2 separate regions of the Homo sapiens genome follow, and region 2 is linked to region 1. The links come from fine-mapping of genetic effects on plasma protein levels. A gene starts in region 1. The other region holds a variant in brackets. All regions are shown on one strand. Distances are between the middles of the regions.

Region 1 (11,621 bases):
ATGCTGTTTATGGAGATGGGAAAGACTGAGGGAGGAGCAGGTTTACAGATGTCGGGGGAGTTGGATAAGATCATCAAGCCAGCAAGTGGCAGACCTGGAACTAGAACTTGGGTGTCCTGACTCTCAGACCCAACATATATGGATCTGTGAGAAAGATTTCACTAAGGAAAGAGTTTGGGATTTTTTAAGTTAAGATTTATTTAGCACCTCCTCTATTAGTCAGGGTTCTCCAGAGAAACAGAGCCAATGAGAAAGAGAGATTAAATTTTAAGGAATTGGCTCGCATGAGTGTAAAGGCTGGCAAGTCCAAAATCTGCAGGGATAGGTTGGCAGGTTGGAGACCCAGGGAAGAGCTGGTGTTGCAGTTCAAGTCCAAAGGCAGAATTTCTTCTTGCTCAGGGGAGTTCAGTCTTTTCCTCTTATGGCCTTCATCTGATTGGTTAAGGCCCACCCACATTATGCAAGGTAATCTGCTTTACTCAAAGTCTACTGATTTCAGTATTAATCCCATTGAAAAAATACTTGCAGAGAAACAAAAAGCATAATGTTTTTTTCCCATGGCCTAGCCAACTTGACACTTACTTTTCTTACTATTGGGCATTGTGCTTTTTAGCTATATTAGTTCATGGTTGACAAGAAAGGCAGATGGCGGGGAATCACCCTGGGTTTGTCCACAGTTAAGGGCTAGGAGGGGAGGTGGACAGATATACAAGGAAACAGGAACCAGGACAGTGGAGAGAAGCATTCCAAGAAGGTGGAGGTGTCAAGAATTGCAGAGGGATAGAGAAGGAGGAAGACAAAGGAACCACAGAATGCGGTGATAAGGAGGTTTTTGGTGACCTTAGCCATGGATCATGCAGGGAGAGTGAGAACTGTGGCAAGGAAGGGGGCTCTTTCACATGGAAGGATTGGGAACTGGAGTCTAGTACAGAAGCATGCAAATAAATGGCTACAAAACGCAAAATAGGGCCAGGCATGGTGGCTCATGCCTGTAATCCCAGTGCCAAGGTGGGATTGGTCTTGAGGCCAGGAGTTCAAGACCAGCCTGAGCAACACAGTAAGACACCATCTTTACAAAAAAAAAAAAATGTAAAATTTTTTTTTTTACATTTTGGGCATTGTGACACGTACCTGTAGTCTCAGCTACTTGGGAGGCTGAGGTGGAAGAATGAGCTATGATTGTGCCGCTGCACTCCAGCCTCAGTAACAGAGTGAGACCCTGTCTCTAAAACCAAAATAAAACCAACAAACAAATACAACATACACTACAACAGAAAGGAAGCTGTGATATGAAATAATGGGGGAGCTACTCAGATGGAGAGGTCAGGGAAGGCCCTTCTAACAGAATAATTTTTAAGTGGAGATTCGAAGGAAGAAAAGAGGCTAGGCACAGTGGCTCACACCTATAATCCCAGCACTTTGGGAGGCCAAGATGAGAGGATTGCTTGAGCCCAGGAGTTCGAGATCAGCCTGGGCAATATAGTGAGACCCCCGCCTCTATTAAAAAAAATTTTTAATCCAAAAAAAAAAAAGGAAGAAAAGAAATGCCCCATATGAAGAGCTATGGGAAGGGCAAGATGGCAGAGAACCTGTGCAAAGGCCCTGAGATGAGAAAGAGTCTGGAATTACCAAAGAACTGAAAGAAGCCTGGTAGGGCTGAAGCCAAGAGAGAGGCGATGTATGAAGCTGGAGGGATGTAGCCTTATAAGGGATGGTGTTTGAATTTGGTTCTAAGTGTGATGGAAAATCACTGGAAGGTTTAAGCAGGGGAGTAAATGATGGGACCTGCTTTATAATTGTTAATTTACTCTGGCTACTGTGTGAAGCCTGTGTTGGTGGGGGACAGAGTGGGAGTGGGGCAACCTGGAAGGGACACTAACAATTGTCCAGGTAAGCGGCAAAATTGGCTTAAAGCAGGAAAGTTTCTGGGGGCAGATCCAACAGAATTTGCCAGTAGAGTGGATGTGGGAGGTGAGAGAGAAGAATGCAAAACAACTCCCAGTTTCTTGCTTTATCAGTTTCATCGCTGTTTCCAAGGAGAAAAACTGGGGAGAAAGAGGTTCTGTGCAGGGCCCAAGAGTTTAGTTTTAGGAGCAGGGAGTTGAAGGGGCCACTCTTGGCCATCTTAGCTGCTTGATGATGGGGGCTGGGACGGAGTGAGAGGCTGGGAGAGGCTGGAAGGGGAAGTCTGCACGGTCATCCGTGGGCTTGCTGAAGCCCCAGTGGAGGCTGGCTGTGGATTTGCAGTGGCACTGTCTCAGGTAGCTGGGGGACTGTCCAGAGGAGCTCAGCAGGAACTGGCAGGGGGTTTGTGGGGCAGTTGAGATGTTGAGGCAAGGCCAGTGCAGAAATCGTTATCGGGCAGGTGAAACGCCAAGAATCTGAATTAGAAGGAAGGGCATGAGAGATTGGGAGCAGAAGGTTAGAGTGGGGGGGTCTGAGGATCTTGAAGCCTATGATTTCAGGGATGGAGTAATTTGGGTGAGGTCAAGAGGGGGTGGCCATGTGAATGGGAGGCCAAAGTGGAGTGGACAAGAGTATCGACCTGGTCCAGGAGGTCCCAGAGGTGTTGGGCGTAGCACTGACATAGAGAACGAGGTCCCCAACGTGATGCTTGAGTCTGCCACAGAGAAGAGGACCTCGAGACAGATGCCAGGGTCCTGTGTGAGCAAAGAAAGCACAGCAGGGCATGGGGGAAATAACTCAGGTGAAGAGAGCAGGGAGGTAGAACAGGAGGAACAGTTACAAAAGGGAGGGCAGGGGGGCGGTGTGGAATGAGGCAGATGCCACACCCTCGTGCAGGAGAATGAGTGGTATTGCCAGACTTTGTTGGGCAAAGGGGATGGCGTCCCTGGTGTGTGTTAAAGGAGCCTGAACTCACTCACAACAAGGTAGAGAATCTGAGAAGTGTGTTTCTGCTGGTATGGGGCTTCCAGAGGACACAGCAGACCCCCTGGGAGGAAAGTGGAGAGAAAGGAACAAGGAAGAGCTGGGCAGTGTTCTTGGGAATGATCTACTTTATTATTGCTCACTGGGGCTCCTCACTCCCTTCAGTCTCGCCTCTTCAAATTCAGCCTTCACCAGAGCTGCAAGACACTCCTAAAGCACAACTCTGGTCCTGCCTTTCTGCCTCATCAACACTCAGGGGCTGCCCTTGCCCTCAAGGTAAAGTTCCTGCTCTTTGGCCTGGTACCATAAGGTCCTTTTGGAAGCACCCCATCTGCTGCCCTCTTCCCCGCCTCACCTCTCTCATCCGAAATCCCCACGAAGCAGAACTACTTATAGCACTAAGGGCACCACGATGCAGCAGGCCTCCGGGCCTTTGCACCTGCCATTCCCTCTGCCTGGAATGCCTTTTGATCACATGTGCCTAGAAAATGCCAATAAATCTTTCAAGCATTTCTTCCCTGGAGAAGCCTTCTCAGATTCCCTCAAGGAGTCACAGTCACCCCTTATTTTGTCCCACCACTCTACCTCATTTACCCTTTCACCAGGCTCTTGAGTCGGCCTTCCTCACTAAACCAGGAGTTCCTTAGGAAGACAGTGTGATACTCATTTCTCTATCCTCCATTTCCAGCCCTGTGCCTGGGATACAATAGTGCTTGGTTGATATCTAATAAAGGCACTGACCAAATTATAGCTAATAAGAAGAGCCAGCATGTACTAAGTACTTACTATAATTCCTAACATTGTGCCAAGCTCTTTAAATGCATTATCTTATGTCATCCCTGTAAGAACTGTGGTGGGTTAATACTGTTACTATATGTATTTAACAGATGAGGAAACTGAGGCTTAGGGAGGTGAAGTGACTTGCCCAAGGACATTAAGCTAGTCAGTGGTAGAGATGGGCTTCAAACTCGGCCGATACTAGTGTCCATGCACTTAGCTGTTATGCTATATTGCCTCAATGAAAGAAAGGATGACAAGATCTAGCCAGGGCAGTGGCTTACGCCTGTAATCCTAACATTCTGGGAGGCTGAGGCAGGCAGATCATTTGAGGTCAGGAGTTCGAGACTAGCCTGACCAACATGGTGAAACCCAGTCTCTACTAAAAATACAAAAAAAATTAGCTGGGCGTGGTGGCGTGCCTGTAATCTCAGCTACTTGGGAGGCTGAGGCAGGAGAATCGCTTGAACCTGGGAGGCTGAGGTTGCAGTGAGCCGAGATCGCATCACTGTACTCCAGCCTGGGCAACCGAGCAAGACTTCTTCTAAAAAATAAAAAAATAAAAAAATAGAAAGAATGAATGAATGAATGAAAGATTTCAGAGAACAGCAGGGTTATGAAGACTAGAGTTTTCAGGGGAGCCTATAAATTGACAGTAACAAAGTCAGCTTTTTCTAGAGTAACAGTAATGATCACAGATGCCAGTAGTTTCCAATCCAAAAGCCCTTCTTCCGTGCGGACAGAGTTCTGCTTTTGTCTGTGAACATCCTCCCAGTTCCTTAGGAACTCACTGCAGTGGAAGAGACCATCATTGGCCAATGATGGGTGGTGTACAGGTCTACACAAGGTTTGGAGGCTGACTTTCGAGGTGGTCAGGCTAAACTTCATACAGGCCTTTTGAAGGATGACACAAAAAGGATTAGAGAAAAAGACATTTCTTTTTTTGAGACGGAGTCTTGCTCTGTTGCCCAGGCTAGAGTGCAGTGGCGTGATCTCGGCTCGCTGCAAGCTCTGCCTCCCGGGTTCATGCCATTCTCCTGCCTCAGCCTCCCCGATAGCTGGGACTACAGGCACCCGCCACCACACCCAGCTAATTTTTTGCAATTTTAGTAGAGACGGGGTTTCACCGTGTTAGCCAGGATGGTCTCGATCTCCTGACCTCGTGATCCGACTGCCTCAGCCTCCCAAAGTGCTGGGATTACAGGCGTGAGCCACTGCGCCTGGCCGAGAAAAAGACATTTCTAAGCAGAATGAACAGCATATGCAAATTTAGAGCAACACAGCTTTCCCAGGGAAACAACTCATTTGGCATAACCTGAACTGGGCTGGCCACTTGCAGGCTGTGTGTCTCTGAGCAATTGACTTGGCGTCTCTGAGGATCAGAATTTACATTTATGGGAAAAAAGGAAAAAAGAAAGGAACTACAATAGTTGCGAAATTAGGTAACAGAATATATGTGCAAAACACAGTGCTTGGCATACATTAGGTGCACAAGAAACATTCTTTCTTATTCACCCATTATTGTCACATGGTTCTAATTCGTTATCTTCTGTCACCCAGGTGGCTTTCTTCCCTTTCTCACTCATTCCTGAGCCTAGTAACGAGGCCCCCCAACTTCCACAGACTTTTCCTCAGGCAGGAAACCCGAGCCCACTGCCTGGCCTAGGACAGCTTCTAGGGCTGTGTGGTTTGTGTTATTTCTTCTCTTTTCTCTCTCTCTCCCTCTTTTTTTTCCTAAATGCAACAAAATAAAACCAAACAAAAAGCCCAATGCCTGGCGTGGCTTGTCAGAGAGTTATGCAAGTGTGTAAAAAAATAAAATAAAATAAACATTGAGTTTTCGGCATTTGGGGCTGTTTGATTAGACACAGAGCATAGCCAAGGGCCGGTTAGACGCAGGGAAGGCTCAGGGCAGAGGTGAGAGAGGAGGGACTTGAGTGGGGGTTGGAGGTTGGAGGGGGCCCCTGGACCAACTCGGAAATGACTGTTTGCCTCCTGCAAACTTGGCAATGCTCTGGCTGAATGAACCCAGACACTGGGCATTTCGGACCCAACTGCTCCACTTTCTCTGGCTATCCACCATCCCTGTTCCCTGGCCATTGGGACACTCTAGGGGTCATTACATCCATCCTCCTGTCATTGTAAACGACCCTGTGCCCTTAACTCAATAGTCAGGGCTCCCCCCTTCTCTCCTAAGAGGGAGATTCCACAGCCTGTCTTGATTACTCACCCCCCCTATACACACACACAATCAGTACATCTTTTCTGCTCTAGCTTAACTCCCACTAACTACAGTTTTAGCCCATTTTCCTTTCCCAATCTGAAGTGAAGCTGGAGAACAGCTGTTTGTCACTCTAAGAAGTGAGTCTCCTTCCCTCCCTTCTTCGGGCTTGACTTCAACATCATCTGGGTCACTGCAGGTGTCTGTAGCCGTTCAAGACTCATTCCACAAACATGTATGGGGTTCCCACCATTAACCAGAAGTTTGTAGCCTTCATTTCATTGAACCCTCAGAACAGATGAAGCCTTGCGATTCAGAGAGGTTCAGTAACCTAGGCATGACCACACAGCTGGTAAGTGATAGAGCCAGACATGAATCTAAGTGTTATTGTATGATCTCCCTCACTCTCACCTACCAGCTGCCTCTGGAGGTGTCCTCACCTCGGTGCCCAGGATCTGATAGCCTTGGTATTTCTTCTGAACTGGGAAGATGCACAGAAGATTTGACCCTGAAGGGGGAGAGGGTGTGGTCAAGACCACCAGGCTCTGTGGAGCCTGTTCCTTGTCACTTTCCAGGTTCCTGATGGGGAAACTGGGGTTTTCATGAGGGTCTCCGGCCGCGTTCTGACGCCAAGATGAGCGGAGTTGTTGCGGGTTCTCTGGCTGCGTGGAATCCCCGGGGCGCGGGGAGGGGCAGGGGACAAAAGCAGAAGGTCTGCCCCAGGGTCCTGGGGACTTGTCCCTCCGCCAGCCCCGCGCTCGGAGCGCAGAGCGCCAGCTTCGGGCAAGGACGTGTGGACTCCCGGGCCGGCGCTCCAGTCCATTTTTTCTTGCGGATCCCTGGAAGGGGGGCCGGCTCGCGGGGGGGACTGCGAAGGGGGGGATTCCCTCCCTGGTGCTCGCAGAGGACTGGCCCCTCTCCGGGCTGGGAGCTCCGGCCGAGCGGAGGCGCGACGGAGAGCACCAGCGCAGGGCAGAGAGCCCGGAGCGACCGGCCAGAGTAGGGCATCCGCTCGGGTGCTGCGGAGAACGAGGGCAGCTCCGAGCCGCCCCGGAGGACCGATGCGCCGGGTGGGGCGCTGGCCCCGAGGGCGTGAGCCGTCCGCAGATTGAGCAACTTGGGAACGGGCGGGCGGAGCGCAGGCGAGCCGGGCGCCCAGGACAGTCCCGCAGCGGGCGGGTGAGCGGGCCGCGCCCTCGCCCCTCCCGGGCCTGCCCCCGTCGCGACTGGCAGCACGAAGGTGAGTCCCCTCGTAGCTGCCCCATCCTTCTCCCCAGCGCCCCCTTCCCCGGGAGCTGGGGCGCGGCGGGCCCTCCCGTCGGGGCTGGTTCTAGCTGGGTGCGTGGGGGGAGACAGAAAGGAAGGGGAGTCTGATCGCTCTCCGGTCGGCGATCAGGACAGGGCACCTCCTGCACCCTTCCTGCAAGTCTGCCGCCCCCGTCGGCCCTCAATCCAGCAGGCAGCCTCTTCCCCTCGAACTCCCCTCCATCCCGCAGCCCCGGGTGATCATCCTCACTCGCAGTCCTGAATTCCCCAAGTCCACCAGCCCTGTTTATACCCCGCCTCCAATCCAGAAGTTCTTGATCCTGGGGCTCATTGGCTCGGATTCCCCCAAGTCCCACGGTCTCTGGTGACCCCCACCCCAGTCCGCAGCCTGGGCCTGGGTTCGACGTGGCAGGCGGCATGCGCTGCGGCCCCCGGTGCGCAGCGAAGTGGCGCGGCTCCCTGGCCCTCGGGGTCTGGCGCTCAGGAACCGATGGTATCGCTTAGTTGGGGAGAGGTGGGGGCTATGTTCGCCCGGGACTCCCTGGAGGGCCGGGACAGACTTGGAGTGAGTGTGCTTGGGGGCAGGAGTTTTCTTGTGAAACTGGCCTCTCAGACGTGGACAGCTCTCTTGGCTCTTGAGGGCCAGCCAGGGGAACCTCAGGTCCGCGTCTCCCTCGGCACCTGTTGGGGCCTCTGCGGGATGGTGGGGGAGGGAAGAAGAATGTGCGCGCTTGCGGGGGTGATGGAGGGGTGAAGAAGCCATCCTCCGCTGCCCTTGCTTTTGGAGGGGGGGCACGGCCCCAGCACCTGGCTTGGCTCCGACAGACAGGCTAATCCCGACAGGTCGGACAGGCACATACTTTGTCCCGCCCCCCGCCCGCAATTCTTCTGCCCCCGCCTGCCAGCCTGCTGGGCGGCCAAAACTCTCCAGCCTGTAGCCCGGCCCGGGGAGGGCTAATGCGAAATTATCTAGATAGTTTACATTTTTGGGTCTGTATCGGGCCCCTGATGGAGTACCACTTTATTCTGACGGTATTGCAGGCAAGAAGGTGAAAGTGATTCCAGCCCCCTCCCGGGGCTGAGTTTCTGCCCTCAGCTCCACCTCCAGCTGTGTCCCCCTCCCCGACCTGTATACTCCCCTCCGAGGCCCTTGTGGCCTCTCGCTTTGGTCTCCCTTCTCAGCTCTGCCTCTGCCACCAGCCCCGTCCCCACTTTGCAGGTCCACTCCCCAAGCTGGGTTGTGCCCCACACTCAGCAGCTCCCAGCGGGTTGCCCCGCCCTCCCCACACCCAGTCCTGGGTAGCAAACCTGAGGGCAGGTCCCTAACTGGGTCTGTAACCCCTGGGACACTTAACCATTCAGGGCCAGGTCTCTTCCCCTGTAAAATGGAAATAATTCTACCTTCCTCCTTCCATTGTGAGGAGTAAACGAAGACCTGGCACATGGCAGGTGGAGGGAGGCATCTAACAAGTGTGAATCCCTCACCCCCACAGTGGCAGAGAGAAATGCCCTTTCTTACCCCCACCAATAACCTGAGGCACTGCCAGCAGTCCCCATTCTATCTGTGTAGAGTGAGCCTCAAAAACATAAACTGCCAGTGCCATATAGCCCATGGCTCAAAGGAAATCAGACAGAGGACTCTAAAAGAAATGAAGCAGCCTGCTTAAAAGGGAGTCATCAGCTCATATCTCCTCTCTCAGCCCTAGCCCATGCTGTCCATGTCTGCAAGAGTGCATGCCTGTGTGTGCGCATATGGGGTCAGGGACTAGATGCAGGAATGTGGAGCCACTGAGGCAGGGACCTGTGGCCCTCTGAGGCTTGGTGCTGCAGGGTTCCTAGTCCGAGACCTGTCCAGCATTTCAAATCAGATTTCATGTAAGATCCTGGATTTTCCACTCCTCTTTTAGAAAATCAGAAGATCTTTCAACAATCAGTCAGAGCTGAACGGCATATGCTCCCTTTAGATGGGGCATTTACCCTCCAGTTTACCCCCTCCACATCCAGCTTCAATCATATATGTCATTTGTACCCCCTGGTATAGAGGAACTCTTAGCCCCTTTACAGGGTTGATTCTATATGTACATTTTCAAAAAGTGCTTGCAACTCTTCCCATCCCAGAGGTGGGGGAGGCCAGTGTCACTTGCTTCAGTGAAATTTACATCTGGATCCTCCTTACGATTTTCCAGCTGAGATTGTGGTTTCCTGGTGATTCAGGTGGGAGTGGGCCAGAAGATCACCGCTGGCAAGGACTGGGTGAGTGTGGCAGGGGTCAGCTGAAAACTAGGACCTGGGAGGATTGAGAAGGAATTTAGAGGGAGAGGAGAGGGAGGAAAAAGAAGGGAGCTAACATTTGCCGAGCACTCACCCTCAATTGCCAGGCACCATGACAGGTTGGCACAAGGAATGCAGAGATGCATAGGGGACATTTTGTGCCCCAAAAAACCCCAGGGATATTGATCACGCAGTGAGTCCAAAGTCTTTCAGATCCAGGGTTAACACCAAGTTTGTCTAATGCAGTGTTTGTCAACTGTAAGGACTCATGGAACAGATCTACCAGGGATTCTCAGACCTTAGTTTGAGAAATGCTGCAATTAAAGGCAAATCCTATCACTCTGAGTGATCGCTTTGGTGTCGAGGCAATCAACCATAAAGATAAATGCAAATATGGAAATTGCATAACAGTACTCAGTATTAAGGTTAGTATCCAGATGATACAGAACATGTTCATATTGCCTTTTGAATGATTATTAGAATGTAGACACAAAGTGAAGCTTTGGTCATAACAAATACAGCAAATATTATTGAGTCATCACTGTGTGCCAGCACCATTCTAAGCAGTTTTGTGTATTAACTCATTTAAGTTATAAACAACAATAACCTTCATGCAGATAAGAAAACAGGCTCAGACCAGCTAAGCAAGGTAACATAGCTAATAAGTAGCAGAACCAATATTCAAATCCAGGCAGTCTGACTCTGAAGTTTATGCCCGTGACTATCATGCTGTACAGCCAGCCTCTGAGACTACAGACTTGGGCCAGAAGACCCCAGTTTGATAAACTCAACTGGACATCTATAATCTGTGGGTGAGAGAATTGTGTAGTGGGGGCTGGGGAGGATAGAAAGGCTTTGGTAAATCAGGCAGGGAGTACTGGAGGGGCGTGCAGGGGTTGGCAGCTGACGGGCATTTGGGGGTAGCTGGGGGCATCTCCTCTGGCTCAGGCCACAGCACCAGGTGGGATCCATCAGCCTCATGTAAACACTTCTCACAGGCAGCTTAACCACTTGAGTGTGTCTGGCCTTCAAAGCCAGCGGGAGAGGCCAAGGAGGGAGGTACTGAACTCCCTTAGGGGATAATGATTTATCTCCCGTGCAGGTGGGCTCTGCTGGGGCCTCCCTGACAGGCGAGGGGGTGGACTGGCACTGAAGAGCCTAGAGGGGAAAGGATTAGGACAGGGGGTGGGAGGGGCACCTCCACTCCAGCACCTCAGATTTCTCATTCCTGAGCCTGAACTCTCTGACTCTCAGCTAGCCTGTGACATAGTCATGCTTGTCCCCATTTTATAGATGTGAAACAGGTTCAGTGAGGCTACATGACTTGTTCGAAGGCATCTAGCCACTGGAGGGGAAGGTGATGGCTCCCTGGCATCTACAGAGACTCTGTGCTATTGGCCTGCATGCTCTGTTGTGGTGTGGGTGTGTGTGGGGGAGTGTGGGGTGTGCGTGGGCAGGCCGCTGCTGTGGAAGAACCTTGAGAGCATCAGAGCATGTGTGTGATCCCGTGACGGGGAAGCAGGGTTTTCATTCTCACTCCCAGGTTGGGCTCAGATGTCCAACTTCCCAGACACATCTGATCAGGGGAGGGACCGGCTCCCCTGCCCCCATCACCCCAGCCGGCCAGCGGGTCCAGAGACCTGGCTCTCGCTGGGCTGGGGGATTATCCCCATTCTCTGTGTCTCTGGCCAGGGCGGGCATTGCTGCCTCTTTTATCCTCTCACAAAGGCCAGGCCCGCCGGGCCTGCTGTGTCAGAGTTTCTGTGGCCGGGGGAAGCCTTACTTCCTTTTCTCCCGCCAAGCCCAGAGGGCCAGGCAGGGTCTGCCAGCTTGCCGGGGGCCACTGCTCTAACTCCAGGACAGGTGAAAGGCACATGGGTGACTCAGCCCCGGGAAGAAAAGGCTGAGGGGTCACTCATGCAAGGACAGAGAGAGAGAGAGAGCTCCTCTTCAAGAGACAGGATACTACTGCAGCATGAGGTCTGTAGGGTAGACTTAAGGAAGGACTTCCAGTTAGAGCTGGACAACATGAAGCAGGGGTGGGACCAGCTGGCTCCCGTTATTGAGAAATCATCAGTGATCCACAAGTTTGGTTTGAATGTCTGCCATATTCTGGCTACACAGGTTGCCGGCTCCGGTCCCAGGTTAGGGAATTCTGTAAGACAGGAAAAGGAGCAGATTTCTTCTAGAAAGGTGC
Region 2 (11,621 bases), 24 kb after region 1:
CCCCTTTCCCCAGGTGTGATCACCAAAAAGCTTTCTAGGCATTGTCAAATGTCCCCTGGGGAGCAAAATCATCCCTGGTTGAGACCCCTGTTCTAGGCATAGATTATTCCAATTGTCTTTGTGTTTCTGGGTAGGTGGTCCTTTTCTATTTCACTATTTATCCCTCTTGCCCTTAAAACTTTCTCAGAAATTTAAGAAACCCTCCTTCTACAACTAAGGCTGACTGTTTTGTGCTCTGGGGAGAGTGGATAAATTCCAGGAAGGCTGCAGCTTGGGTTGCTTCTCTGGGGATGGTGGAGCCAGCCTAGAGAGTGAACTCGTGTCGTGTCTGGAGCTAGGGAAGCACATGGGTCAGCATCTGTGCTAGCTCTCTGGAGAAAAGCTACTGGGAAGGTGTATAAAGCAGCCTTGCAGAGAGCTGCCAGCCTGGCCGGTGCTTTCTGAGAAGCATATTCCTTCTGTGGAAGGAAACATCGATCTATTCACTTCCCATCCTTGTCAGAATCTGGATAGGTGAGGTTCTCTCCACAGCCGCCTTCTCATGCCTGCTCCACCTTTGCAGTCAGTGCCGAGGGGAGCCAGGCCTGTGCCAAAGGCTGTGAGCTCTGCTCTGAAGTCAACGGCTGCCTCAAGTGCTCACCCAAGCTGTTCATCCTGCTGGAGAGGAACGACATCCGCCAGGTGGGCGTCTGCTTGCCGTCCTGCCCACCTGGATACTTCGACGCCCGCAACCCCGACATGAACAAGTGCATCAGTGAGTGTGGGCAGGGCTGTCGGGGGCAGGGGGCATTAGAAGCTCTGGACTGGGGGAGAGTGCTTTGAACCATTGGTGGCTGGCAAGAGGAGCAGAGGGGGCTCTGAGGAGAGGAGATGAGGCTCCGATTCAAGTATCCAGCCGCACACTTCCACCTTGGTGTGTAAATATCAGAACCCTGTCTCCTCCCTTCGCACCTGCCCCTACCTGTATTCCCAGAGGTCACCCTCCATGTCCCAACCTGTCACCCAAGCCACAGCCCTGAGTGCCAACCTCTCCCACCCCATCCATCCAATCACCAAAGCCTGCCTGTCATCTCCTGTATGTCCACACTGCCACTGTCCTCCCCAGGCTCCCAGCACCTTGCTCCGGGATCATTGCAATAGCCTGTTCATCTGTCCTCCAGCCTTCATCTGGTTCCCTGAAACCCATCTTCTGCACTTCAGCCAGAAAGACGCTTCTGAGACACACACCCTACCCCATCACACTTCTGAGACACACAACCTATCTCATCACACTTCTGAGACACAGAACCTATCCCTATCCCATCACATTTCTGAGACATACAACCTATCCCATCACACTTCTGCTTAAAAACCACTGCTAGCTCCACATGGGCTGCAGGGGAATCCAAGCCCAGGCAGCCTGCTCTTCCACTCTCTTCTCTCCCTGGTCTTCTGACTCCTCATTTCCACAACAGCTACAGCTCCACATGCTCCAAGGCACACGCTACCATATCTCCATCCCTTCTCTGTAGATGCAGCTGTGATGTGCTGGGGGACACGTGTGAACACACTCGGGGGACAATGCCAGTGCCCCCACCACTTGTTCAGTGCCTTGCCATTTAGAATGCATTTGCAGGTCTCATATCAGTTGAGCCTCACAACAACACTGGGAGGGAGACAGGACACAATTGATGGTGCCCTTTTCAGGGCTGACAACATTCAGGCCCGGAGGGTAAATGACTGGTCCAAGACTAGACTGGACCAGTCCAGCTCAGAGTTGGTTCTGAGCTCAACTCTGCTACTTCTTCATTGTGTGACCTTGAGCACATCTCAACCCCTCAATGCCTCATCTTTGTTTTTACCCCCTAGGGTTGTTGTGAGACATGCATGTAAAGCCCTTAGTGTCTGGCACTCAATGAATGGTAGCTGCTATTGTTCTTATTTTTGTTCTTATTTGACTGGCAACCAAACCCAGGAATCAGAGCACCAGGGAGGGAAGGAAGGAGGGAAGGAGAGAGGTGAGGCTGAGATAAGCCTGGAGGATGGTGGGAGTTTGTGAGGACAGAGGTGGGACCCTGGGAGCTACCCTCTTGGTCCTCATGGTCCTTAAAGTCGGGAGCTCCTGGCTACACCAGCTCCTAGGAAACTGGCAGCATGGGCTTCAGGTGGCAGAGCCTGGGAGGAAGTCAGCCCCGCCTGCACTCTGGGAAGGAGAGATTGTGAAAGACCCTGCCTGCTTCCAGCCAAGCCCTGGAAGACCCACCCTGCCCCCATTCCCCCAGAGGAGAGAACTGGCAGCAGGGAATCAGGGAGGGACCCAGGAGTCCTACCAAGGTTGTTGCTGGAACTCAGCCTTGCAGAGGCAGAGGCATTTGCCCTGGGATGGCTTACCCCTCCTCCATGCTGATTCTTTCTGCCAGGCAGGAGGAGAACCACAGTTTGGGACATTGCAGATGCCCAGCAATGAGGGAAGAAGAGATCATGCAGCCACTCTCTGGGGGGCCATTCTGTCCCTCAGTTCAACTCTGTTTAGGGTGGCCCTCTGGATGCTGTGAGATGCTGAAACTCTCCTGTCCCACCCCCACCAGGCCCAGACGGCCCCACCCTCCGCCTCTGAAACTGCTCTCTTGAGCCTCACCTTGGGCTGCAGGGACTGAGACTGGGTTCATGATCGAGTTGGCTGATGGTGGCAAGAGTCCCAGCCAGCCTTCAGGAGCAACCGCTTCAGCTTCTTCTTCCCTGGCCTGCCACTGCCCTTCCTTTCCCTTTCCTCCCAAGATTCCTCTGCAGTACCTGCAGCTCTAGGCCAGGGTCCTGCCCTCCATGTAGGTGGGTGTGGACAGAAGGGAGGGTATTGGGGCTGGGGATGAGGGGAAACATTCTCACCAGGCTGGGCCAGAAGCCCCCAATCTGTCCTCTCCTCAGAATGCAAGATCGAGCACTGTGAGGCCTGCTTCAGCCATAACTTCTGCACCAAGTGTAAGGAGGGCTTGTACCTGCACAAGGGCCGCTGCTATCCAGCTTGTCCCGAGGGCTCCTCAGCTGCCAATGGCACCATGGAGTGCAGTAGTCCTGGTAAGCCATGGCAGGCACTGTGGGCAGAGGGTCCAGGACCCCAGAAGGAGGGGCCGGGTAAGGGTCTGGCAAGAGAGCGGGTGGGCTGGGGCACTGTGCAGGGAGAGCTTACCCTACCACTCCTTTCTGAGTCTCCAAGGACTTTTCTGCCCTCTGGACTAAAGATACCTGCAGCCTCAGGTCCAGGCAGAAGGAAAGTGGGAGATGCTCCCCTGGGCTATTCTGGGCCAGAGGAGGAGACATGATCCCCTCCTCCTTGTCCTTCTCTCCCTTCCCTTCTCTTCCTGCCAGCGCAATGTGAAATGAGCGAGTGGTCTCCGTGGGGGCCCTGCTCCAAGAAGCAGCAGCTCTGTGGTTTCCGGAGGGGCTCCGAGGAGCGGACACGCAGGGTGCTACATGCCCCTGTGGGGGACCATGCTGCCTGCTCTGACACCAAGGAGACCCGGAGGTGCACAGTGAGGAGAGTGCCGTGTCCTGAGGGTGAGCTGCAGCCTCTGCCTCCCTGGGGTCAGGGCTCAGGCACCAGCCATGACAGGTCCTGCCACCTCTGCTTCCTGCCCACGGCTCAGGAAGAAGCTTCAGGGCAAGGCCAGATGGGGCACCCGCAACTCAAGACCTCATGCTGTCCAATCCAGATGCCATGTCCTGGCAGAGAACAGGGCCTCAGAACTCTGCATAGTGGAAGCTGGAAGCTTCTGTGGTCAACATCCTTCCGGTTCCCCCATTTCTTCTGAGCTAGTGGATGTTCATACTAGAAGGCCCCTCGGAGGCAGGATGGGT[G/A]GGTGAAAAGGGGCACTAAGACCCAGAGGGGTGTAGTGATTCCACCAAAGTCACACAGCCTGCAGTTGGCAAGGGGTTGGCTGCTGCTCTTGCCTGGCCCCAGAGGTGGCTGGTGGCGGATAGGGGATGGGGGCAGTCCTGCCTGTTCTGAGAGTTGCACTGAATACCTGGGAAGTGCTCTTGGTCCATTGGGATCCAAGGTCTGAGGAATCCATGAGGAAGAGGATGATGTCTTGTGTGCCTTGAGGGTTGGGGAGTGAAAGGGCTCTTGGGCTGCCTCCCAGTACTCAAGCCTCGGGGTCCTCTGAAGTGGCTGCTGTCAGAGGAGGTCACGATGACCCAACTACCTAGAGGCAGCATCTCCAGCCTCCTCCCTGCCTCCCCTTCCGGCTTCCTCACACTCCCCTCCTAGGGCCTGTGGCCATGCCCAGGGCCTCCCTGCACATCCTTTGTTGATTCTTCCTGCTGTTTGGTTGTTTCAGGGCAGAAGAGGAGGAAGGGAGGCCAGGGCCGGCGGGAGAATGCCAACAGGAACCTGGCCAGGAAGGAGAGCAAGGAGGCGGGTGCTGGCTCTCGAAGACGCAAGGGGCAGCAACAGCAGCAGCAGCAAGGGACAGTGGGGCCACTCACATCTGCAGGGCCTGCCTAGGGACACTGTCCAGCCTCCAGGCCCATGCAGAAAGAGTTCAGTGCTACTCTGCGTGATTCAAGCTTTCCTGAACTGGAACGTCGGGGGCAAAGCATACACACACACTCCAATCCATCCATGCATACATAGACACAAGACACACACGCTCAAACCCCTGTCCACATATACAACCATACATACTTGCACATGTGTGTTCATGTACACACGCAGACACAGACACCACACACACACATACACACACACACACACACACACCTGAGGCCACCAGAAGACACTTCCATCCCTCGGGCCCAGCAGTACACACTTGGTTTCCAGAGCTCCCAGTGGACATGTCAGAGACAACACTTCCCAGCATCTGAGACCAAACTGCAGAGGGGAGCCTTCTGGAGAAGCTGCTGGGATCGGACCAGCCACTGTGGCAGATGGGAGCCAAGCTTGAGGACTGCTGGTGACCTGGGAAGAAACCTTCTTCCCATCCTGTTCAGCACTCCCAGCTGTGTGACTTTATCGTTGGAGAGTATTGTTACCCTTCCAGGATACATATCAGGGTTAACCTGACTTTGAAAACTGCTTAAAGGTTTATTTCAAATTAAAACAAAAAAATCAACGACAGCAGTAGACACAGGCACCACATTCCTTTGCAGGGTGTGAGGGTTTGGCGAGGTATGCGTAGGAGCAAGAAGGGACAGGGAATTTCAAGAGACCCCAAATAGCCTGCTCAGTAGAGGGTCATGCAGACAAGGAAGAAAACTTAGGGGCTGCTCTGACGGTGGTAAACAGGCTGTCTATATCCTTGTTACTCAGAGCATGGCCCGGCAGCAGTGTTGTCACAGGGCAGCTTGTTAGGAATGAGAATCTCAGGTCTCATTCCAGACCTGGTGAGCCAGAGTCTAAATTTTAAGATTCCTGATGATTGGCATGTTACCCAAATTTGAGAAGTGCTGCTGTAATTCCCCTTAAAGGACGGGAGAAAGGGCCCCGGCCATCTTGCAGCAGGAGGGATTCTGGTCAGCTATAAAGGAGGACTTTCCATCTGGGAGAGGCAGAATCTATATACTGAAGGGCTAGTGGCACTGCCAGGGGAAGGGAGTGCGTAGGCTTCCAGTGATGGTTGGGGACAATCCTGCCCAAAGGCAGGGCAGTGGATGGAATAACTCCTTGTGGCATTCTGAAGTGTGTGCCAGGCTCTGGACTAGGTGCTAGGTTTCCAGGGAGGAGCCAAACACGGGCCTTGCTCTTGTGGAGCTTAGAGGTTGGTGGGGAAGAAAATAGGCATGCACCAAGGAATTGTACAAACACATATATAACTACAAAAGGATGGTGCCAAGGGCAGGTGACCACTGGCATCTATGCTTAGCTATGAAAGTGAATAAAGCAGAATAAAAATAAAATACTTTCTCTCAGGGAGGTGTCTCAGAGGATGTGATATTTGAGCCTAACTCTGAAGGATGGGTAGAAGGATTTAAGACAGACTGCTGCTGTCCAGTAGAAATATGTGAGCCACATATTTAATTTAACATTTTTGGGCCGGGCGCGGTGGCTCATGCCTGTAACCCTAGCACTTTGGGAGGCTGAGGTGGGCAGATCACGAGGTCAGGAGTTCAAGACCAGCCTGACCAACGTGGTGAAACCCCGTCTCTACTAAAAATACAAAAATTAGCCGGGTGTGGTGGTGTGCACCTGTAATCCCAGCTACTCGGAGGCTGAGGCAGGAGAATCACTTGAACCCGGGAGGTGGAGGCTGCAGTGAGCCGAGATCACACCACTGCACTCCAGCCTGGGCAAAAGAGTGAGACTGTCTCAAAAAAAAAAAAAAAAAAAAAAATGCCAGGCAGGGTGGCTCACGCCTGTAATCCCAACACTTTGGGAGGCAAAGACAGGAGGATCACTTGAGCCCAGGAGTTTGAGACCAGCCTGGTGTGCAAAACAAAATTAAGTAATAAAAAAAGAAAATGTTTTTCTAGTAGCCACAGTATAAAAAGGAATGAGGTGAAATTAATTTTAATTACATCTGTTATTTAACCATATATATGCAAAGTATTATCTTTTTTTTTTCCTCATAGAGATGAGGTCTCACTATGCTGCCCAGTCTGGTCTTGAACCCCTAGGCTGAAGCGATCCTCTTGCCTCGGCTTCCCAAAGTGCTGGGATTATAGGCATGAGCCACTGCATCTGGCCCCAAAGTATTATCTTTTTAACATGCAATCAAGGTAAAAAATTATTAGTGAGATCTTTTACTTTTTTAAAACTAAGTGTTCAATGTTCCATGTGTATTTTTACACTCACAGCATATCTTAATTTGGATGCTAAATTTTCAGCAGAAATACCTGATCTGTAATTACATGGCATAAAAACTAAAGTTGAAAAAGAAGATACACATACCCAAGTTGTTTTGAGAATACTTACCAGTTTTTCTGTAACTGAATGATGTATGTTTTTAAATTTTAAATTTAGCCAATTAAAATTAAATAACATTAGCAATTCAGTTCTTCAGTTGCACTAGCCATATTTCAAGTGCTCAATAACCACATGTGGTGAGCGGCTACCATGTTGGACAGCACAGTTCTACAGACATGCATATGCAATTGTCCTGTGACAGAAAATAGTTTGGCCAAGGAACTGAAAGAAAGCCAGTATAGCTGGAAGGTCTCGAGGGCAAATGAGTTCAGATGATTCTAGAAAGATTGCCTGGAGTTGGCCCTTTATTCTCAGAGCCAAAGGAGGCTACTGAAGGGTTTTAAGCAGTAGGCCAAAACAAGCAGATTTGCATTTTGCAAAGATCATTTTGTCTGTAGCTTGAAAGACAGATTAGGGAGGGGTTGCTTAGGAGGCTGTTGCTGTCATCTAGGTGAGAGATGTTGGAGATTTGAACTAGGGTGGTGGCAGTGGAAATGGAGAGAAGTGAGCAAAATCAAAAGGTATTTGGGGCATAAAGTTGACAGAATTTGGTGATGCATTGGATGTGGAAGAGGGGAGAGACGGGGAGGAGTTATCAAGGATGAAATCTCTTTTTCTGACTCAAACACCCAGACAGATGACAGTGCTGTGTTCTGAGGTGGGAAACCTGCGAGGAAGACCAGTTTGGGAGAAGAAGGAAGAACATAAATCTGCTTTCGACCACGTTGAGTTTGTAGTACCTCTGAGACATCCTGGTAAAGATGGTGAGCAGACATTGCTTAGACATAAACACAAGTTTAGTTGTACAGGCGGAGTTTGGGATGGAATGTAAACTGGTGTACAGAAGGCAATTGAGGCTGTGGGTTTGGAAGAGCTCAACTGAAAAGACAGCACTGGTTGAAGAGAGGAGTCTGGGCCCAGCTCTAATATAAAGTCCCTCTAAATATAAAGATCAGATCACAAACGGTGAGTTAAAGAAGGAGCAGGCAAGAGGAAACCCAGGGGAATATCAGGTCCCAGAAGCTAGCAAGAAGGAGGGAGAGATCAAGCAAAAGAGGACTGGAAAGTGACCATTGGACTCAGCAACGTGTGCCAACAGAAGCTTAGCAGCAGTGTTTGGGGAGGGTGATGGAAACAGACAATTCCTTAGCTGTGAAAAAGAGGAAGAGAAATAGGACAGGAGCTAGAAAGAAATATGAGTCAAGAGAGACCTTTTTTCTTTAGATGGGAAAGACTTGATGGTATTTAAAACCTTCTGGGAGGGGTGCACTTAAGAGAAAGCAGTTGAGTACACAGGCAAGAGAAGGGGAAATCAGTAGTGGAAGGTTCCATGGGGAGGGATGGCTCTGCAAGAGCAAGGAGAGAGTGATGCAGGTGCGGGAAGCCTGGGAGGTGAGGAAGGTGGGGGATTTCATGTCTGTGCACCTGCAGGTCTTGTCCCGTCTACACCTGTGATCTTCACTGCCAGTCACAGACCGCCCACAGCCAGCTCCAGCCCCTCTTCACTCACTCTTTACCTTGTCTCCTCTCCTTGACCCTGGCTGTGTTTTTGCAAGTCTCTCTGTGCCATCCATCTTCCATCTCTGTGTTCCCTCTGCCTTTGCCCCTCTCTGCGTCTCTAACTCTGTCTTCTCGGTCCCTCTTTTTGTCACCCTGACCTTCTCTGTTCCCACTTCAGCCTCTGACTCTATTTTTGTGCACCATTGATTCTCTTTGTCCTTCTGTTTCTCACTTTGGGGCATCAATCCTCAGTCCCAGTATGTCTTGGCTGTCTTTGTCTCTGATTTGTCCCTGACCCTTAGGCTCTTGCTCCTCAAAGTGTGGCCATGGACCAGCGATCTTGGCCTCATCTGGAAGCTGCTAAAAATACAGAATCTCTGGCCTTACCCAGACCTAAAGAATCTGATTCTGCCTTGTAAGAAGATCCCTTAGTAAATTTGTGCAGATATTTAACAATTTGAGAAGCACTGTCATAAGCTTTCCTCTACACCAACATCAAAGCAGAAATCCAGAATCTTAGCAACATCAAAGAATGAGCTGGATCCTCCTGTATCTCCTGCCATCAACTCTGTGATGCTCTGAGCCATCCCGCTTCTCTGCATCGCATCTTTGAGCCACCTAAAGCTGCTCTTGAGGCCCTAGGCAGCTAAGATAAGGAACACAGTATGGGTTTCAGGAAGTCCTGAATCCACTGATGTACACCCCACACTTGAGCTTCTACATCTGCAGAATTACTGGCAAGATCATCTGATACTGATACACTGGGTGCTTTCAGATGCGATCCCAGTACATTCCTAAAAAACAATTAGCCCCACCTGGACCTACTCCTGTCTCACTCTGTCCTGTCTTTAGCTGGAGAGGGGTGTGTGTTTCAAAACCTGCTCACAACCCTAGAAGCAGCCCACCTGAGGCAGAGACCATAAGGGCTGAGAGCAGCCCAGAGTTGGTCCAGACATCACACCTTGTGCTTTTTAGGATGACTGAGTGCTGGAGAGAGGGAATCTATGTCAAGATATGGAGCTGCCTAACCCTATTCCCAGGTTTAGGCAACAACAGCACATGATTGTATGTAGTTGTTACGTGCCCACATTGTTATTTGGAAAATGTTAGCTTTTTCCTCTACGGGGCCACAGATTTGCCCAGACTAACACATTTCTGGCCACCGTACACAGTTCCAGCTCTGGTATGTTTCAGATCAAATCTCCAGAGTGTAGATTTGTTTTCCATTTCAATATTTTGGGTGATGGGGTTGTGTTTTCCGGATTTGTTTACTTAAGTGGGGATTTTTTTCTTTCTGGTTTGTTTGGTTTGGTGTAGGAGGACTGAGAGGGAATTTAGGAAAAGGGTCAGCTTCTTGGGCTCTATTACAAGTCCCTGATGCAGGGCCAGCAACCCAGGTGCTGGCTTTTCGCGTCTCACTTCTCCAGCTGTGGTCCAGACCAGATTTAAATGGGCAACAGGTGGAAACCCAAGTGAACAGTGATAAGGTGGGAGGAAAACAATCAGAGGGAACAGGTTTCATTTTTAAGGACTAAATGGATTCATTGCAAAAGGTCTGGAATACTGTCTAGTACTGCCAGTAAAAGTGAGCCAGAACAAAAGCCTAGTTATAGGGGAGTAGAGAAGATCTGAAGATTAGGTCCTCAGGGGTTGCTGAGACGTGAGCATACCAGGGTTGGGTGCACCTGCTTTGGTGTGGCGCACCTTCTGGCTCTCCCAAGAGAAAGCCAACACACGGGGAACAATAAACAGGTTTTGGCTGGAGGCTTGGTTGAAGCTCCTTTAGCATCAAGAATGTGAGGCCGGGCGTGGCGGCTCATGCCTCTAATCCCAGCACTTTGGGAGGCTGAGGCAGGAGGACAGCTTGAGGCCAGGAGTTCAAGACCAGTCTGGGCAACATACTGAGACCCTGTCTCTACAAAAAGACAGAGAGAGAGTGACCTGCACTAAATAGACCCTTGGGTGAGCTGGCATGGATGGGGACAGTGGGAGAGTTCGTAAATCTGGGCCCCTTCCTTTCTCCGTCACCGCTAGCCTACCAGGTTCTTGGTGACGAGAGACCCAGGCCAGTGGCTAGAGAAGGTGTCTTGGGTTCTGCCCTAGAGCCTTCCAGAACTTAAGTAGGAAATTGCGAAACAGGGCTACATTTTGAAAGAGAAAGTATGTGAAAAATGGTTCCTCCCTCGCTTGTTCGCTCTCCCGGAGCTTGGTGCAGGGAGGTGGGTGAGATGGATTCCTGGCTGGACTCAGTCTGGTGTGGGAAAGAGGCAGAACTGAGTCCTTAGGGGCCTCTCAGGCCAGGTCTCTGCAGCTGTCAGCCTTCGGTTATTGATCCTTGTTATTGGGATGCACTTTTTCCATCTGTTGAGCATCAGCCTGGTCCATGTAGAAGGCCAGCTCCTTCCTCTGGCTGAGTTTTGTCTCCTAAAAGTCCAGCTTCTGAGGGCTCCCTCTGCAACCCAATATGTACCATGGACTGCTGATTAAATACTTGGAATGTCTTCAGGGTGAGCCAGGCCTGTCCATAAAATGGGAGGCATTTTGGCAGTTCCAAGGCCCCTGGCACCCAGTCTTGGCCCTCGCCTGGCTGTCTTCTTCAAGGAGCTGCGGTGGGCCTCCCGCCAGAATGCTTCCCTGGGAAACATCGAAGTGAGTTAAAGTCAACAATGAGTTCATCTCCAAAAGGAATAAACTGGCAGCCTTCAGGGCAGGGGAACAGAAGCGGGGAGTAGGGGAGGGACAGGGACTTGGGGGCAGAAGAGGGGGATAGGTGATGCTGCAACAGCCAGGTCAGATCCAAGCCTGTCAAATGAGCTGGCAGCGCAAGGAACAAAGGAACTGGCTTTCCTGGGCCAGTCCTGGAAGGCTCGCTTGGCAAATGTGTGACGATGAGGGTGTCACAATCCCAGGGACCATGGAAAGTATTCTCCTAAGGATTTGGAACTGGAGCAGGACACTGAGATGGGAAGAGGCTGTGGCGGTTGGGTGGGTGAGGCAGTGAGCTGTGGCCCTGCTGACCCAAGCCTGCCCCATGGGGATGTCAGGATGGCCATTCAGGCAGTTGAACTCCACTGTCTCATCTTGGAGGACTTGAAGAGGGAGGACTCGGTGCTGAGGCCAAGTGACTAGCAGGCTCATGATGACAGAACTCAACATTTTAATCTGATCATCGTTCCCATCAGATTTATCTCTGAGGGCTTTACATATGGATAATGGTTCCCGATTTGAGCCAGTGTCTCGT

Direction of the effects. Positions count from the first base shown, and alleles are read on the strand shown. Strength reflects both the effect of a copy and how common the allele is.
With allele G in place of A in region 2, the plasma level of the protein whose gene starts at base 6,801 in region 1 is higher (weak association).

What was found. PIP is the chance, under the fine-mapping model, that this variant and not a neighbour inherited with it causes the effect. Protein levels are from antibody-based Olink assays in UK Biobank. Linkage for the fine-mapping came from a reference panel and not from the study's own genotypes, which makes the PIPs less certain.
Region 2: its variant is fine-mapped to the plasma level of the RSPO1 protein (UK Biobank, PIP above 0.99).

What each region holds. Positions count from the first base shown.
Region 1 is chr1:37,630,072-37,641,692 of GRCh38, reverse strand. RSPO1 (R-spondin 1) reads left to right here and starts at 6,801. Exons shown (of 7, transcript NM_001242908.2): 1 at 6,801-7,127; 2 at 9,340-9,406. RefSeq lists enhancers at 6,400-6,926, 6,927-7,454, 7,983-8,510, 10,519-11,032, 10,934-11,103.
Region 2 is chr1:37,605,617-37,617,237 of GRCh38, reverse strand. It overlaps RSPO1 (R-spondin 1), which reads left to right. Exons shown (of 7, transcript NM_001242908.2): 4 at 563-754; 5 at 2,905-3,054; 6 at 3,346-3,534; 7 at 4,317-5,888. The coding sequence ends at 4,483. Among named protein-coding and RNA genes, the nearest start is that of GNL2, 15 kb to the right of the region's middle. The variant G/A (reference allele first, on the strand shown) is at 3,835.